2 separate regions of the Homo sapiens genome follow, and region 2 is linked to region 1. Evidence: fine-mapped expression QTL. A gene starts in region 1. The other region holds a variant in brackets. All regions are shown on one strand. Distances are from middle to middle. Region 1 holds the start of PTGFRN (prostaglandin F2 receptor inhibitor). Region 2 overlaps PTGFRN (prostaglandin F2 receptor inhibitor).

Region 1 (9,881 bases):
AGCAGGACCAGCCCTCAGGCAGGACCCTGCTTAGCCCATACCAAACAGATGAGGTCCCTTGCTGTTTTCAAACTTGTCACATGAGCATTCTACAGCTTCCCCACTAATCTCACCAGTATTGCAGGACTCTCACTCGTGGGGAAATAAAGGCCTCCTCTTCCCACCCCTCCCTTTCTAACTTTTAATTTCATTTTCTAATTCTATAATATAATCCTAAATTTCTTTTTGTTTAGTAATCTCTGTTTAACTTTAACTGGGAAAATATACATCTGGACACAGAACAAGGAAGACTGTGAGTGAAAATGATTAGTGGAATGAAACGGTGCCATGGAATATACTCCTTCCCCTGAGCCCCTGCTGAAGTAGGTAGGGGTCAGGGTCATTTGGAGACTGTGTGCGTGTACAGGCTGCCAGAGGTGGCAGGGCCAACAACTCCAAGTCTAGGTGAGTCTTAGAACAATCAGCAATTTCATTCACTGGGAACCTTTTAACATTTTCATTCACAAAGTTAAATAACATGATGATGTTTTTGCCTGATCTCAGCAGGGAAAACTTGTTTGGCGTAACAGTATGAGGACTCTTGTGAGGTTTTAGGGGTATCACCTGCAGAAAGACATGTGTGACCAAAAGACCATAATGTCGGACTGCTGTGACCAGTGCCCCTTGGGGGCACTATGATTGGAGAAAAGAAACCCATGTCGGTACTCTCCTTGGGGGTGGGCGTGAATCAATTAGAATTGCTGGAGAGTGAGTCTTCCTGCCCCAGGCAAGCCTATAGACTAAGATAGGAGAACAACTGGTTGGGGCAAAAGCCTTACCTGTATAGAAGGTTACTCACTCTGGTAAATAAATATCTTTCATAGTAAAAGCATCATCAGATTCCAGAGTCATGAATTAACAAATTGTGCCAGTCTGCTGTGTTTCTTCCTTTATCCATTGGTAGTCAGGAAGGTGCAAAGGGTGTGGTGGTTATAACCAACAGTCTAGACTTATTAATTTATGCTTATTTTTTGCTACAAAAGTGGCTCTTTGGTTAACTCCCATGACATTTAACTGCCAGCCACCAGCAGGCTACCCACTTCAGTCCTCATTCTACCTGCCTTACCTAGACAATTTTATTTATTCTCATCATTTCAATGGTTAACCACTGTTATTTCCATGATTGTAAGATACACCATTAATTTAATAATACCTGGGGGTGGGTGAGGTGAGAAGAATCTCTATCATATTAAATACACAACATCTATTGTAAGCTTATCCTTACACTCCACAGCTAAAGACCTACCAATTTTTCAAGACTCGTTGCATAGTCATCCCCTCTGTGAAGCTTTCTCTGACAGCCTCCTCCTGGACTGGCCGCTCCCTTGTGGTGTCACAACTCTACCTTGCATATGCAATCACAATGCACAAAATGTCGACTCCTCAAGGGCAAGAACTGTCTGCTTCATCCCTGTACCCCCAGGATCTAGCCCAGTGTCTGCCATTAATTCACTCTATAAATATACATTGGGACCTACCATGTGCTAGGCACAGTCCCTGACACACATTGTTTATTAAACAAAAGAATTTTTAAAACATCTACTCTGCCATAAGGTGGGATACAAGGTGAAAATGTGACAGCCTCTTAGGCCCATGCATTATTAGACAGAGATGGGGGTAGTGTATACATTTTGCTAAACTGAATGTGACCAAGTGCCACAATGTGTGGTTCAAACATTAAGCGTTCTGGGTGGTTAAGAAAAGGAAAGATGGAGGATGAGCTGAAATCTGAGCTTCTGAAGGTGCCAGGCCTCACATTTCTCTGAAGCTCCACTACCTTCCAAGGCCTAACATTAGGCTTGAATTCAAGGTTGATTGAATGAAATTGGGAAACTTCCCTGCGAGATTCTAGGGAAGAATTGGGATGGGGAAGAGAAAGGAATTACAGTGTGTATGAACAGAACCAGGAAAGGCTTGGCGGCAGAAATAAATTTTAAAAAAATTATTGTGTAAAATGTACATAGCACAAAATTTACCATTTTAACCTTAAAAATTTTTTTTTAGAGACGGTGTCTCACAATGTTGCCCGAGTGGTCTCAAACTTCTAGCCTCAAATAAAAAAAAAAAAGAAAGAAAAAAGAAAAAGAAGAAAAAGTGCCAGCCCAGTGGCTCAGACCTGTAATCCCAGTCTTTGGGGAGGCCGAGGCGGGAGAATCGCTTGAGCCCAGGAGCTCGAGACCCGCCTGGCCAACATAGGGAGACTCCAGTGTCTACAAAAAATAAAAACAATTAGCGAGAGTGTGGTGGCACACATCTGTGGTTCCAGCTACTTGAGAGGTGGAGGTGGGAGGATTGCTTGAGCCTGGGAGGTCAAGGCAGCAGTGATCCCTGATCGCACCACTGCACTCCGGCCTGGGTGACAGATCCTCATTTTGAGACCCTGTCTCAAAAATGAAAGAAAGAAAGAAGACAAAACAAATAAAAACTCCTGGCCTCAAGCAACACCATCCCTGCCCCCCGCCTCCCCCTGCCCCCCCAACCTCAGCCTTCTGAGTAGCTAGCATTACAAGTACCAGTTACCAGGCCTGGCAATTTTAAACATTTCTAAGTGTACCATTCAGTGGCATTAAGTACAATAACGTTGCACCACCAGGAATGAATTTTTAAGTCTCTTTCCAAAGATACCTGGCTAATCACACATTTGATAGTGGGGAAATAAGAAACATTTGTTGGTTGAAAGACGGATGCATGAGAGTAAAAGCAGTGTTCTTCCCCAGTGTGGGCAGTTTCCGCATAAGCATCTGCGATCCGTTTTGCATGTGAATGAAAGCCCAGTGACGGGCAGTGGGCACCAGTGCTGCTCCTTGCGTGTTTGAATCATGCTTGCTAAGTTTCAAGCAAGGAATGCTCCATTTCTCCCAACCAAGTCGGGCCTTTTGTATTCAAATCAAAAGCACAAAACTCTATTGTAGGGGGAAAAATGAGTCTTTATTGGCAATCAGTGGTGTCCACTTAGAGCAATAAATATTAAGTCTTAAGAGTACATTCTATATGAAGTACTATAGCTATTAATACACTTGGGTTTTGTTTGTTTTTTAAATGGGTGTCTTTGTGGGGTGCTGTTCTAATCAGTGCCACAGGCGCCGAGGAGAGGGAGGGAGCTGGGTAAGGAAGGAGACAGGCCCACCCTAGCCACCGGGGAGTGGGCAGAGTCAGGAGAGCGGGGTTCTGATTTTGCCCCTTCCCTGTGAATCCTTGGGCACCTCACCGAAACACTTAAGGCCTCTGTATGGTAGAGGTTGGAATCCGTGGCCTTTAAAAGTCCTTTCAGCTCCTTCGCTCCTATCTGCATAATTTTTGGCATAGGCCAAGCGGCTGGTTGGTGGGGTGTTTAGCTCAGGACGAGAGGCCGAACGAGCGGGGAGTTGGCTGAGGATAGACTAGACACGCGTGGGTGACTCCAGCGTGATGGAACGCGGGGTGTCCCGGGATAGGGCTAAAGCGATGGGATTTCCAGACGAGTCTTTCCCAGGCCAACTTTTAAAGGTCGGAGGAAAGTTTCTCGTGGGGTGGGGGCCCAGAGGGGATGGCAGGGTGGGCTCCGACGCCTCCTCGCCTTTAAGCGGGTGGCCCCGGCTCTTCCTCCGTTACCTGGAGCGGGGAGGGGCTTGGGAAAGTTTGTGTTTGTTGCTGGCAAAGCGCCGGATGGGAGGCGCGGGCGGGCGCTGCGGTTCTTCCCTTCTGCTTTCGGGAAGCGGTCGGGGCTGCACACTCGGATCGGCGGGGCCGGCTCCCGGGCCCGGCCGGCTGGAGGAGGGAGGGAAGGAGGCGGGAGGGAGCGAGCGGAGCCAGGGGCGCACGTACGCCCCAGCGCTGGGATTTATCGGCTCGCGAGGAGAGCGGAGCAGGCGCGCGGCCCAGGCGGAGGAGCGCCGACTCTGGAGCAGCCGGAGCTGGAAGAGGAGGAGGAGGAGAGGCGGCGGGGAAGGAGGAGGAGGGGGAGAGTCGCTCCCGCCGGGCGAGCATGGGGCGCCTGGCCTCGAGGCCGCTGCTGCTGGCGCTCCTGTCGTTGGGTGAGTGTGCGCGGGGCTCAGCGGGGCACACGGGGACTGGCGAGGCCCTGGAGGGCTCGGCGGGGCGCGGCTGCAGCGCGCGGCCTGGGGCGCCGAGGGTGCCCGGGCTGCTCCCGGGAAACCCGGCCGGGGTGCGCGGGTTGTTCGGCCCGGCGGGGAGCGGCCGCGGGGCCGCCCGGAGCCTGGCGCGAATCCGCTCGGGCCCCGCGCGCGGGGTGCAAGTGGCCGCTCCGCCAGGCCGAGCCTCGCCCCCAACATGTGCCGGGGGGAGTGGCCCGGGGCCGTCTTTCCCCCAGGTCTCCCTACCTGTTGGCCGCCGGGAGCCCGGCTCACCTTGAACTCCCGGCCCGGAAGGTGCTGCGGTCCCGGCCCGGGTCCTCGGCTCGAGAGCGGAAATGTGAGCCTTTGATATGCCCCGCCATAGCCGCCGCCGGCCGGGTCGCTCTTCACCCAACCCGCGCGGAGTTGCCTTTCCAGGGAAGCGAGAGAATCCTCCAACTTCCTTCCACGAAGGTCACAGGGTGGCCCGGAGCGTTACAATGGAAATCGGCGGGCGAGTCCTGCCGTCATTTTCGTCGTGGCTAGATCTTCTGCCTCAGTCTTTTCTTTTAGCTTTTCTTGAAGCTGCCTAGCTGCGTATTTATACACAAAGACCTAAAAGCCTGGCTTCTCCAACTTTTTCTACCTGTTACTTTCCCTCCCTTACTATCCCCTCGTCTTCCACCCTCCGGAAACCCTGGGTGCCCCGTGAGGTTTTGGCCCAGCGCCCTCCCCCCACCCAAGGAATCTTTTGTGGGTTTTTTCCCTCTCCATTTTCCATTCACTCCATACACAGACACCATCTTCACGTAGATCCACATGGTGATCCTAGCCAGCCACGGAAATATGTTTATTAAGTGCCCACCATGGTACCCCAGGGCCGACTCTTAAATGTTTTGATATTCTTGGATCCTTGTTGTCAGTGTCAACCAGGACAAGATGATTCCTGTGACCTGGCCTGGGGTTCTCTTCCAAGCCCCTAGAGAAGGCGGCTCTGAGTCTTTCACAGAGCGCATGATGTGCGGTGTCCGTGCCATTCAGGTCCCAGCTGCACACAGGGCAAATGATTACTCTGCACTTATGGTCAGAGGGTTCCAGAGGAGGCCTTCTATAGCTACTCCCCTGCTGGGGACACCGGGGCCCACACTGCTGTAACCCCCATGACTCCTGCTGCTGATGAACCAGCCTTGCTGGCTGCTGTGTTTTCTTCCTTCACCTTGAAGGGATTTTCTGAACTGACTCCCTCAGAGAGCTCGTCCAGCCACATTGCTTCAGCTTCAGCCCATGTGCAGAAAGCTTCCAGATCTTCCACTTAGTTTTATGGCATCTTTTCTATAGTCCCTGATCCTAGTGCTTTATTTTTATTTTTGAAACAAAGCCTCAGTCTTTCACCCAGTCTGGAGTGCAATGGCACAACCACAGCTCACTGAAGCCTCAAACTCCTGGGCTCAAGTCATTCTCCCACCTCAGTCTCCTGAAGTGCTGGAATTACAGGCATGCTCCACCACACCCGGTGGTAGTGCTTTTAATCTTTACTTTTCACTCTGGGACCCTTGTAAGTTGTATGTTAGTGGCGCACTGCTGTTATAGTCCACACACATTAATTGACTTTATGTGTCTGGGTCAAGCAGGGCCATGGCCTAGGTTTGCACAGATGGTGCACTGTACAACTTCGGGAGCTGCTGTTCACTTTGTAGTCTGTGTGAATAACTCCCCCTAGAGCTGTGCAGTTCTCTGAACAACCTGGGTACCAGTTATGAGGGTGGGATGAGGTAGAACTTTGAAAACAATGCCCTTGAGTAATAATGAAGGGAGAAGAGGGGAGGGGGCAAAGAGAGACTGACAAAAACAAAATAGAAGTGGGGAAAGCACAGCTTGGGGAAATCTTGATTGTACTCCAGCATATCCTGTCCTGGCTGGATGCCTCCTATGAATTACACAGGGAATTTCTGTGGTGTCACCAGCCAGTACCTTTTCACCTAACAGTTCTCTGAACCATTGATGACCCTCCTGATAACTCTGCTGTCACAGAATCTCACTCGGTGTGGCTTCAGCCTGACCTCTGGGAAGGTCTCGCTGTGTTACACTGCTCTGGCACTGTACTGATCCCTGAAATGTAATATGTTGATAAACAAGATCATCTTTCCTCCTGGGGTGTAACCTGGGTATAATCGTGGTATCGCTGCTCTTTTTGACCTCCATATTCACGTAGTCTCTCAATTCTTGGCTCTCCCCGTACCACAGACTCCAGCTTCTTTCTTTCCTTCCTGTTTCTACGGCTACTGTCTTAGCCCAGGTCCTGATTGTTTCCCACACAGTTGGTGTCTTCCTGGTTGATTATTTCCTCCAGCCTCCCTTTTAAGCTCATCCTTTTCCTAAATGATCATTTTTGGGGCTCCCACCTGTTCTCACTGTGTCCTTATGAGTTTCCTCCAAGGAGATGTTGCCCCTTGTGTGTCCCTCCCCTCTGGTCTTCTCTGGCTCAGACACTTCGTTCCAACTAACCTGTTTGCTCTCCTTTATGTAGACTATATTAAACCTTCTGGCCCCTTCTACTTCTCACCTCTTGCCTGCGTATTAATATTTCCTTTTTCCCTTGAAACTCACTTTCTCCATGAAGCCTTCCTAAGCCTACCTACCATGATCACACCAGAACCCACCCAGCCACATAGAGCAGGTTTCACATCCATTGCCTATGTCTGACCTGTCTTGCCCATCCACTCAATGTGGCATTTCTTGAGTGGCCACTCTGTGTGCAACTGTGTGTTCAATACTGGGAGTCCCAGACAAATGACAAAGACACAGCATCTCCCTGAGCGGCTGGTGGGTGTGAGTAGACAGAGAATAAAATAGCTAACCACAGGACTGAATGAAATACCTGACATGGAAACCAAGTGTGGGAAACAAGGAAGGGGATGATTAATTTTGACTTGGGGGTTGGGGCTGGTTTTGCTGAAGAAGTGACATTTGAGTTGAGCCTTGAGGATAATTAGAATTTTGAAAGAAAGGATAGAAGAGCATTCTGGGCTCTGGGGAAAAGCCTAAAGTGTGGATGAGTGAAAGTACATGGCTCATTGAGAAATGGCACGTAAGTTCCCTGTAGCTGGAGCTGGGAGGAGGAGGAAATAATGGGGGTGCAATTATTTGGGGGAGGAGGAAATAATGGGGGAGGAAAGGTGGGTTTGGGATAGATCCTGTAGGTTTTGCATGCTGTGCTAAGGAGTCTGGACTGGGAGGGGTAGATTTGTTGGTGCTCTGGGTGCTGCCAGCCAGTCTGTGCCCTGTCATCAGAGCATATATTTCCTTCATTGTATGTAATTGTTCCCTACTCTGATTGTTTCCCCTGGGGGCAGGGGCCACGTTGATTTTGTTCACTACAATGTCCCTATTACGAATAGGATATATAACTCATACTGGTTGTTTGATACATATTGGCTGACTGAATACTTACATATGTCATTTTATCTGTGGGAATGGGTAGCCATTAAAAGTTTGTAGGGCGAGATTAACAGGACAGGGTAATGTGTTGAGGAGGATAAACCCTCAACTAGTGCAACATAAATTGGAGAGTAGAAGGCATGGAGATTGTAGGGTGGGATTAACACATTCTCTTTATGTCTTTATTTTTGCAAATCTATTGAGATACTTTTTTAAGTGTCAAAAGCATTACATCTGTATTTTAAAATTCAAATGATATAAAAGGACTTTGTATTAATCAGGTAGGCTAAACTGCTCTAACAAACTCAAAGCATAGTGGTTCAGACAATAGATGTGTCTTATATAACAATGCGAGGGAGATGCTTCAGAGGAAAGGGTTGGGTGGGAACCCTGCTTTACACAGTCATTCTGGCTCCCCAGCTGGTGGCAGTTCTGCTGTCTTCAACTCACAGTTTCTAAGATCACTTTGGTAGTCGTCATCACCATTCCAGCCCCTACAAAGGAGGAAAGAGCGTAGAGTAGAATATTTGGAGTCTTTGTGGGTCAGACTTGAAAGTGGCACACATCATTTCTGCACACGTTCTATTGGAGAGACTTTGGGCCCATGCCACACTAGCTGTAAGGAAAGCTGGGAAGCCATGTGCCAGCTACTATGGAAGAAGGGAAAGACAGATTTTGAGGGAACAGCTAACAGTCTCTGTGTTACTTACAAAGGATATAAGGTCAAAAGAAAAATCTGGGCTAAACAGGTCAGCTCATGCCTGCAATCCCAGCACTTTGGGAGGCCAAGGTGGGAGGATTGCTTGAGATCAGGAGATCGAGACCGGCCTGTGCAACATAGTGAGACCCCCATCTCTACTAAAAAATAAGAAAAGTTAGCCGGGTATGGTGGCATGTGCCTGTGGTTCCAGCTACTTGGGAGGCTGAGTGGGGAGGATCACTTGAGTCTGGGAGGTCAAGGCTGTAGGGGACCGTGATCGCACCACTGCACTCCAGCTTGGGTAACAAAGCGAGACCCTGTCTCAAAAAAAAAAAAGGAAAAAAATGTGTCCACCCTCCTGCCCAGGCACAGCCACTCCTGCCTAACGTGTGTGTGTCTCTGCATACTGAGTATTTTGTTTTTTTTTCCTCATAGCTTCTGTACAAGGCTCTGCACCTAATAGGCACAGACTAATAATAGCTACTATTTCTCGATTGCATATCAAGCGTCAGGCTCTGACGTACATTCTGGTATTTATTCCTCACAACAATACTTTGAGAAAGTCACTATTTTGTCTTTATTACAGATAAGGAAACTGATGCCCAGAAAAGTTAGTTAACTTGTCTAGAGACATACAGATTCTTCCTAGCAGACCTAGGATCTGATCTCAGGACTCCATTCTGTCTCTGCTAAGGAAAAGTTTACTAATGTTCGCTAAACCTTATGCTGCGTATTGCTTGAGATTAGCTTAGGTGAAGAAAGATGATAGTGGTTTGAAAGTGAAAGTGCATTTAAAAATAGGAGGATCCAGGGTTAGTGCAGCCCAGGTACACTTCCTGAAGGGAAGGGCAGTGCCAGCATGCACCTCAGAGGTGTGGCATCTCTGCAACCCTAGCAGGTGGCCATGCCGGCTCTGAGGACGGGCCGAAATGCAACTGCCTCTGGAAAGCACTGAAGGAGGAGGAAGGCCAGTGGGAGGAACCCTAGTGAATCCATCCAGCTTTAACAGTCTTTGAAGTGCTGTGGCCTTCAGAGATTCCTTGGCACTTATTTTAGCCTTGTTAACAGAATTCCTGTATCTGCCAAGCTGATTAATGCCTGCCCTGGCTATAATTATTCTTATTAGCCTGCTGAATAGGAACTCTAGTTGTCAGTGATCATTCCTTACAAGGCAGCAGGCTAGTCGGCATTTATGTGGCTGTTTTGTTTTAGCGATGAGCTGCTGAGCTGATTTTCCCCCCGTAGATTGAATGTACATTTTCATATTGGCACTGCGTCTGGCAGTTAAATAAGGTGTGTGCTTGTCTGTCGATGTGTGTCTGCGTCTCACTTTATCAAATGAAGTTGGAAGGATGCTGTCCAGGCAGTTCATAGCTGTTTTGTTTAATTGCATTGGTTTCTTAAAGGCAGGGTTGCAAGGGTCATTTGACTCTGCTTTGGGAAAATAACTTGAACTGGCAAAAATTCTTCATAATTTATCTTCTGGAAAAGGTGAAGTGCTGCAGTTGGCACAGTCAGTGGTTTTTTCGATCTTGGACTATTTCTCCCCACACCAACTGTAGTCTTTGGGAAGCAACAGAATTAGACCCAGAAGTTAACACTGTCGTGTCCCAGCAATATGCGTTTCCAGTAGGCTGGAGATCATGGCTCTG
Region 2 (9,881 bases), 21 kb after region 1:
CAGTTACTGAGTCTTTAAGGGCAAATTGTCTACTCAATACTTGGTTTACTGTGTTAGGATTCCATTAGGGAAGCAGAACCCTTATAAATATTGTGGAATAACACATGTATTAGAGGAATTAGACCTTACACAATTATGGAAGGAGTTGGAGAAGTGAAGGCCTAAAAAGGAGAGTTAAAGTATCAAGGAAAAGTCACTAGTCAGCTGTCTTGAAGCACTGGCAGGTGGACAAGTTGAAGCGTGAAGAGGAATCTGGAAACCAGGCAGAGTGGGCTGGTTTAGGGTTCTGAAGAAGGGTAATCACTTAGCCCCGAGATTGCAGCCAAGCATCTAGTGGTCTTGGGGTCATGTTGGTCCATAAGAATAGCATTTGGGAAGAAAACAGAAGCAGAAAGAGCAAGGACAAACGGGTGTCTACTAGCACCTTCACATCTGTCCCACACTGCCTTTAACCACGAGCCATATACCAAAGTAATGGCTGCCGCTTGACTTCCATCTCCCAAATCTGACATGAAGTTCTATTTTGTCCAACCCTAACCTGGAACTACACAGATAAGAGGATTCTGGGATATGTAGTTCCAGCTTAGCCAGGTGACAAAACCTCACAATTTCATAATGTAGAATTAAAGGTTTGACATGGTTCTGGCCTCCCAGGATCTCTCAAAGGCCACAAAACTGGAAGCAATGTCATAGTTATATGATCTAGTGCTTTACTAGTAAGAAGGAATTCAGTTAGTTAATGATCCAGTCTTGAAGAAGTACCGTGCATTTTTGTTCCTCACTTGTTGGTGGCACTGTATGTCTTTCTGCCTTGCTTACCTTTTTTTTTTTTTTTTTTTGATACAGGGTCTCGACCTGTTCCCTGTTGCCCAGGCTGGAGTGCAGTGGTGCAATCATGACTCACTGCAACCTTTGCTTCCCAGGCTCAAGCCATCTTCCTGCCTCAGCCTCCCAAATAGCTAGGACCATAGGCACATGCCACCATGCCCAGCTAATTAAATTTTTTTTTTTTTTATAGAGACGAGATCTATGTTGCCCAGGCTGGTCTTGCACTATTGGCTTCAAGCCATCTTCCCACTTCAGCCTTCCAAAGTGCTGGGATTACAGGTGTGATGCAGGAGGTAATGGTTGTCTTGGCAGCAAAAACTAAGAAAAGTTGCATTGACTTTGAAGAGCCTGTCAGTACTGATGAAATGCAAAGTCTTTGTCGCCTCCTTTCTAATCTTGTTTGATTTGGAGAACATGCGTATGAAGGCTGAAAGAAGATTTCCAGATATAAATGGCAGGATAGATAACATTAGAGCCAGAACTGCCATGTAAATGTCAATTAGAAACAAGATTTAAGTCTCTGGACCACCCTTCTTACCCCCTGTGGCCTGTTGGTCACACTGCCCCTTCCTCGTGTTTCTGTAGCCAGGCACAGGCTAACGAGGACTCAGAGAGTGCCTGCTATGATAATTTTAGCCCCTGGAAAAAATAACAGACTTTGTGAGATTTAATGGCCACACCTGGGCCTTGTCATCACTTAGTATTCTTTCACCTTTTTGATTGTCAATTCTGATATTTCCCTCTGTGACCACAACCTCCTTGCTTTACTCCTTTCAGATTCCCTCCTATCTGTTGAACCTATTCTTCATCCTAATTGTGATTCCCTGATTTTGAACATTCTTCCTTTTCAGTCCATCAGGCCATTCTCACTTTACTTGGCTCTGAATCCAGGGTAGACTCTGGTGGTCAGCATTTCAGCAGTGAGCTTGTTAACAACCTGGGACCCTCTGTCATATTTCTTTGCCAGACCTCACATTGTATTACATTTCAGTAATTCACACCAATCGTAGTTTGTAAGCCTGAACTTTATTATCTTGCTGGGGAAAATCTCAAAGTCTGCCCATCTGAGATTCCAGCAAAGTCCTGGCATCTTTACCGCAGCTCAGCTCTCCTTTGTGTTCCTTTTGTGATGGTTTCCTATTATATTTCTTCTGATGCTTATTCTAAACCTTTGTCAGGATCTTTAGCATCTGAACTCCTTTCTACTATTTTACTGAGACAATAGAGACCAAAGAAACCTCAAGCTTTTGCCTCAAAACTTTTTAATATTTTTACTCCTTTTCTCTGTCTAACCTGAAAAAAAGTAAGGGCTCTATCTTTGGCTCTTTTTCCTCTCTATGTGTATTCTTTCCCCAAGTGACCCCAGGCAACCTGTGGCTTTAAATACTCTGTGTGTGCTGATGACTCTCTAGTGAGTATCTCCAGCTTGGACCTCCCCACTGAGCTCCAGACTTAAACATCCAGCTGCCTACTCCACTGCACTTCCACTTGGTGTCTGATAGGGACCTCACATTTAAAATGACCAGAAGACAACTCTTGCTTTCCTTGGTACAGATTTGCTTCCCTCTAATTACTTTGCTGTCTCAGTAAGTGGCATCACCCTGTATGCCAGATGCTCAAGCCAGAAGCCTAGATCATTCTTGATTGCTCTCTTCTTCATTCCCCACATTCAAAAAGTCAGTTTGTCTTTTCATTCATACACAAGTTAAGTCCTGAATCTGACTACTCCTGAGAGTCACCACCACTGTCAACCAAGGCCGGTGTTCATCAGCTTTTGCTTGGTCTACAGAAACTTCCCCCATGCTGGTGTCCTTGCTTCCAAATTGGCCCCATATAATCTGTCTTTCCCACAGCAGTCAGACTGAAATTTCTACAAAGAAAGTAGGCTCTATCGTTTTCTCGTTGATGTGCTTCCCATTTCAACCAGAATCCAGGGCCCCTGCCCCCTCATTCATTGTGATCAGTCACAGTGATCTTTTTTTTCTGTACTTTAAACACCCAAGCTTGCTCCATCACAGTGCTTTTATATTTGCTGTTCTGTGTCTGGAGCAGTTTTGCCCCAGAGCTTCAATCACTGTCTCTTCGTCATTCTGGTCTAAACTCAGACATGACCCTCTCAGAGAGGCCTTTCCTGACCACACTTCATATTGTCATATTTTAACTGAATAGCATTTGTCAGTGGGTCTACTTCATCACTGTCTCTTTCCTAGAACACAGTTTTCTTGCAGGCAGGGACTGGTGGCCATGTGTCCCCAGTGCCTAGAAGGTGCTTTGGGGGACTGACTGGCTGACTTTGCAGGATGAACCCCCTGCTTGCTGCTTCAGTGCCTTTTTCATGGTTGTGCCTTCTCTTCCCTACATCTTTGTTCCTTCTCTCCTGGCTCTTACTTTCCAGATCCCATACCCGTCATTGAAAATGCGCTTTCCTGGAGGTTGCCAGTGATTACTTAGCCATCAGTTCATTTCTCTTTTCTCAGCACCCACCTTCCTTGACTTTTCTGCATGTTTGACATTGTTGTTCATTTTTTTCAAACAAAGGCATATAGTAGGAGTCTGCTTTAGATATTGTGCAGGATGCAGATATGGGTAGGAAACAGCTCCTGCTTTAAAGGAGCTTGCAGTCTGCCAGGAGCAAGTAGATGAGTAATGTTCATAAAGAAACAGTAAGTGTTACTTCAAACCCTTTCTTGAAATTCTTGCATCCCTTGGCTGCTAGGGCATAAGCCTTTCCTGGTTTTCTTCCTAACTGGTTACTATTTCTTTTTTCTGTGCTGACTCTTTTTCTTCTGCTCATGCCTTAAACATAGGACTTTGCTGTGGTTTTGTCCCATTCCCTCTTTTCTATACAGTAATCTGTCTCCCGATGGTGTCATCGACTCCCACGTCTTCACTGCTGGGCAGATTTCCTTTTTACCCCCCACTCCCTCCGTGCATGTGACTCCACATTGATGTTAGGCTCAAATATCTTCTAGGGGTTTCCATTCCAACTGTCCGGTGGACATTTCTACTGGTCAAAATCTTACTATAAGAAAATAGATTTCACCAGTGATTAGCTTCCCTTTGGCTTCTGTCTCCCCTCACAGGTCTACCAGTTGACCCTTCCTCTGTTGTGGCTCTCAGAGCTGCTGCCTTTTGATTCCTGTCATTGCCCTTGTTTTCATTATTATTACCTCTCCCCACCATTGATAGAGGGTCCCTGAATGATCTCTGGGCCTCCATGTCTCCTCTCCAGTCTGCTCTTGATACACTGTTTTAGTCACCCTGTCTTCACCACTACCTGCCTGTGTCCCCCGTGGCCCCTTTAGGTCTTTGCTTATGCTACACCCCTTATCTCTGGTCACTTTCCTCCTTCATGTCTTCTGTTAAACCTCCCCCTCATCCAACCATTTTTCAAAGGCCAAATTCGAATATTGACACTGCATGAAGCTTTTTATGAATCCCTTTGGATGGAAATGTCCTCATTCTCTTTTGACCCCTGAGGCACCTGTTAGTGCATCTCTTTGATTATTTATATCCTTCCTTATACAGGTTGAGCATCCTTAATTCAAAAATCCAAAATTGGAAATGCTCCAGAATCTGAAACTTTTTGAGCACTGATACGTTGCTCAGAGGTCATGCTCGGAGGAAATGCTCGTTGGAGCACTTTGGATTTTGGATTTTCAGATTGGGAATCCTTAACTGGTAGGAATGCAAATATTTGAAAATCTGAAATCCCAAACACTTCTGGTCCCAAACGTTTTGAATAAAGGATATACAGCCTGTATGACAGTTTGCACTGTTCCACACCTCCTGACTCTTAGCATACCATACGTGCCTTAAAAGAAGATCCACAAGCTGACTAACCTTTCACTCTCACTTATCACCTAGCACAGGGACTTTTTGCTCAGTAGCTGTGTGTTGAATGAGTTATCTTATCTTACATTTGTCTAGTGTATCTCAGTGAGGTCTTAGCTGAACTTTTTCTTTTTTTTTTTTTTTAATGATTATAAGCACTGTTCTAGTAGAACCTTATTTGCTTCTGGATGGGGTTTTGAAGTTCTGCCATATGTGACTTCATTACACATTCTCTGCTGTCTATAGCTTGTTTAATGTGCCTTGCTGCATTTTCATGACTTAGGGACTGTCTAGATGAAAGTTGGCATGATCCTTTCCTGTCAGACCTCTCAGTGGCAGACTTGAGGAGACAAAGGTTTTTCATTTGTTGAGTCAGGTACTCCAATAAAGGCACTATAAGGTTTTAT[A/G]AGTTTGACTTTCTGTGCATTCATTTCTAGCTCATATGTGGACTGGGAACTCCATGTGGCAATCCATAGGCCCCGAGTCTCTCCTAAAAGCCTTGTAAGGACTCGGGAAGTGGGAATTAGGCACCCATTTACAAGGCATGCTGAAAACCATAACCTCTTTAGTTTCAGCATTTCAACTCACCTGTACCACTGGATTCAATAACTGCTGATACTTATCTTACAAATGGTTCAGATTGGAAAGTCAGATTGTTTGCTTCTAGGCAGCTCAGTGAAATAATAAAATTTGAGCAGAAATAGAAACAATTGCAAGAATTTTTAGCAAATATGCTATACTCTGCAGGTCTTGATTTAGAATAATGTTGATGATAACCTGAGAAATAAAATCCATTTCCCATGGATATCAGAAGGAGGTGGAAAAGCATAGATAAATGAAGTGTAGTCTTCATTGCCTTGTCTTTCTTAATGATTCCTCATGGTTGGCAATAGCACTTATTTAAATAAACATTGCAGGAGTAGTTGTTTACTTTGAAGAACTTGCCTTTTTCTACCTGTCCCCATCGATTCCACCTGATAGAAGAAAGTCGAAGGCATTTAATTACTTTCTTGAGTATTCCAGAGGTAGGGAAATGGTAATCGGGAAACAATTAACTCTTGGTTGTTAATTTTCTACTGCTGAGAAGTCAGAGCAGAGGACTTCTAAAAGTCCCTCCTGTATGATTTTGGAATAAAGTTCTCTGCACCATTTTTGAGTATAAATATGCGTGGTGTTAAAGTTGGTATCACTTAAAATAACAAAGGTAGTACATCAGAAAAATTTTTGAAGAAATTTTTAACAATCCAGTTTCTTCTATTCTCTCATCTGTCTACTTCACATTGAAAATATATAATATTTCTTCTTTCAGTGACTCATTTCTGTGTTACTTTGCTGCCTATCTTGGTTCCATTGCCCATGGAGAATATGAAATATAGGGAATTTTAAGCTGTTTCTTTTTCCTACTCAGATTAAAGACAAAAAATCAACAGAGGATGATAATATATAATGCAATTGAAGGCAAACGAAATCCGACCTATCTTTGGCTTATGCTGCACTATCAAGTTTGGGTTTGAGTCCCTCACGTTATAGCTGTTATGACCTTCAGGAGGTTATTCAACTTCTTTGATTCTCAATTTCCTCATATCTGTGATAGGGGTGGTAATAGCTACCTTATGGTTGTCTTCTGTGGATTAAGACAATTTGTGGATAGTGCCTGGCTCAGTCAGTCAGTGCATGCCATGTAAGAAACACTGTACATTATTATTCTTCCTCTTACTCGATTCTAATATTGTTGTGGAGAGAGACTGGGAGACTTGATAGTAAATCAAACTGAATACATCATGAAATAAATACTATGAGAAATGCTTATATGATTTTAGCTGAAATTATGGGGTCTTTGATTAATCAAGTATTTTTTATTCTACCCTCCCCCTCCCCCACCAATTAGCTTGTTATTCAGTCTTTCATTTTTGTGGTTACTCTAGAGATTAGAACACGTATCAGTGATCTGTTAGTGTTTACTAGTGATCCTTTTACCACTTCCAGGATAATGAAAGACCTTACAACATTTAAGCTCCAATGTATTCCACCCCTCCCCTCACTTTTTCTGCTATTGATGTCATATGTTTTAATTATGTATATATTTTGAATTCCAGAAGACATTACTAATATTGTATTTATAGTCAATATTCAGTAGGTTTACCCACATAGTTATTCTTTCTGTTGCTCACTTTGCCTTCTCACATTTCCATGATTTCAACTGGGATTATGTTCCCTCTATTTGAAGAACCCCCTTTAGTACTTATTTTTGGTGCAATTAATTCTTTTTCCCTTGTTGAGAATTGGTTGAAAGCATGTTTATGTTGCCTTCCTATTTGAGGATTTTTTTTCTCTGTATAGAATCCTAGGTTGGTGGTTACTTCCTTTCATCACTTTAAAGATGTCATTCTGTGGTCTTCTCATGAGCATCATTTCCGTTGAAAGTTAGCCATCAGTTGTATTCCTGTTCCTTTCTCTGCCTTTCAGTAGTTTTGCTATGATTTACCTAGGTGTGGTTTTATTTGTATTTATTCTGTTTATGATACATATCTTATCTTGCATCTGTGGCATGATGTCTTTTGTTGGTTTAAGAAAAATCTTAGCCATTATCTCTTCAAAAATTATGCCTAATTCTACTACAGTCTCTCCCTGTCCTTCTGGGCCTCTGTGACACATATGTTTGGCCTTTTTACTGTGTCTCATAGATTCTTGTCTGGCTTTTTTAGTTCTTTTTTATACCCTGGGCTTCAGTTTGGATAACTTTTACTGACTTTTGTTTTATTTTGTTTTGTTTTTGTGATTGTTTTGTTTTTTTTTGAGACAGGGTCTTACTGTGTTGCCCAGGCAGGAGTACAGTGGCACAGTCATGGCTCACTGCAGCCTCCATCTCCTGGGCTCAAGCAGTCCTTCCACCTCAGCCTCCTGAGTAGCTGGAACTACAGATGTGTGCCACCATGCCTGGCTAATTTTTTCTGTTGTTGTTAGAGACAGGGTCTCACTATGTTGCCCAGGCTGATCTTGAACCCCTGGGCTCAAGCAGTCCTCCTGTCTCAGCCTCCCAGTGTGCTGGGATTATAGGCGAGAACCACTGTGCCTGGCTGCTGACTTCTTCTGTGCTGCATCTAATCTGCTGCCAAACCTATTTATTGACCTCTTAATTTCGGATATTGTATTTTTTTTTTTAGTTCTAAAATTTCAATTTGATTGTTTCAATATATTTCAGTTTGGGTGAAATCCTGTTTTCTATTTCTTTAGTAAATTAATTATAGTTAGTTTACAATCTGTGTCTGATAAAACCAATATCTGGATCCCTGGAGGTCTGTTTCTATTGTCTTATTTTTTCTCTTTTGTTTTTGTTTATTTGGTTCTGTCATCTGGAATACCTGGTAAGTTTTAATTGAACACTGAAAAATTGTAGTGGCTTTGTATGATGTCATCTTCTATCTGAGAAGATTTACTTTTTTCCTAACAGGCCAGTAGAGTAAGAGAAGCTCATCTTTATCCAATGAGGAATTGAGATGCTTTGAGACTGTCTTTTAGTCTTGATGAGAGCTAGTTGCTTTTTCCGCTTTGCTCTTATTCCAAGAGCATAGCCCTTCCAGGATTGTAACTGAGAATCTGAGTGTTTACCACCTTCCTTTGTGGACTCAGAATTCTAGTTTTTGTTTCCCCGTATTGTGAAATGGTCAAAAATTTTACTTAACCTTTAGCCCCCTAGTGTTTATTTTCTGCTTAGCTTCTCAGCCACTTACCACCTCCCCATACCCTTCAATGTATCTTTCATGTCAGTTACCTTGAGGGGAAAACAATGTAGTATGTCAAGCTCACTTCTCTGCTGTTGCCTTTTTTTCGTAGGATCTTGCTCCTCAAACTCTGACCTTCTTAGTATCCTTGAACTTCAGTTGTCTTCTTGGCCCCACAAGGTGCTGGAAGCTCTGAGTTACTTACTTCTACTTGCTTTCTAGCCTGCACCACTTAAAAATAGCAAATATCTGAAGAGAAAAGGCAGTGGGTATTGTTGAGTCCACTTCAGTATCTTTCTGTGATCTTGGACCCTTGAGCCTGGCTGCCTTGATTGCTCACCACTGCATTCAGTTAGCTTTTATCTATCTTTTATGGTTTCTGTAGTGGGAGTGAGGGTGGGGGCAGGGGGTGGGGAGTGATCTGATATTAGCTACTCTATGATAGCAAAAAGCAAAAATCTAAAAGTAGAAATCTCAATTATTGGTCTTTTGAAATTTAAACTCTGCTTACCACCCCCAAATATTTGAGTCAACTTCCAATGAAATACACATACATATACGTAAACACTGCATGAAGGTGATAGTTAAAGTGCCCTTATTTTGTCTTGGGTATCAAAGGTACTCTGAGGCTGTGGTAACTGCCCCGAGAGGTAAGAGAAACCTGTGTAGTTCCTGTTTTTTTGAAAGAATGTACAATGGTCCATCAACAGGTATTTTTTTTTCTGGTATTAAATTTTAATGGAATTTTATTATGTGAATTTTTGTGTCATTGAACAACCCAGTAGTGTCCTCAATAGGACTTTTAAGGCTGATAAATGTTTTTCGTATGAAGGTTTCTTATATTGACTCCTGAAAACAAATGAAGCCATAATTCAAGATTGTTACTTAGTAGCGGCATTTTTATGGGGAACTAAACTAATACAGTTCAGGTAAAGAAGTGTTTGGGACCTTCAGTTTGAAACACTGGTAGAACTTGGAAAAATAGAGGAAAACTTTCTTTTCCTCTTTTTCCCTCAGTTATCAACTGTTACAAAAGGTTTTGACAAAAATTGGCAACATGTGGCTATGTAGATATTCTTTTTGATTTGAAAAGAGCCATATGCTCTATTTTTTCCAAGTTATATTTATTTTTAAATATCATTAGCTGTTATTTAACAATATTACAAGAAATCTGTGCTAAATACCAGATTGCTTGGTGGCAATTTGAAATTCTGTTACCAAAATTTAAGATCTTGATTTGCATGGATGAGGGGACATCCTAGTTCTGCATGCAAGACAGTGCTCAGGTTTATATCTTTTCGGATTAGAATTTGATCTTTCAAGCATCTGTTCATATCTGCTTTACTTTTCCCAGTGGAGCTATCATATAGCCAATGTTGAAGGTACTTTTGCAGGTTGAGTTGGAACATGAAGGAAGGAGTACCTAAGTGATCCTAGGGGAGTTGGGGAAGGCTTCACAGAGGAGGTGGTGCTGCAGCTGCTTCTTACAAGAGGGTG

What was found.
Region 2: its variant is fine-mapped to the expression of PTGFRN in whole blood (TOPMed, PIP above 0.99).

Annotation. Positions count from the first base shown.
Region 1 is chr1:116,906,201-116,916,081 of GRCh38, forward strand. PTGFRN (prostaglandin F2 receptor inhibitor) reads left to right here and starts at 3,716. Exons shown (of 9, transcript NM_020440.4): 1 at 3,716-4,052. The coding sequence starts at 4,004.
Region 2 is chr1:116,926,706-116,936,586 of GRCh38, forward strand. All of the region lies in intron 1 of PTGFRN (prostaglandin F2 receptor inhibitor), which reads left to right. Among named protein-coding and RNA genes, the nearest start is that of PTGFRN, 22 kb to the left of the region's middle. The variant A/G (reference allele first, on the strand shown) is at 5,070.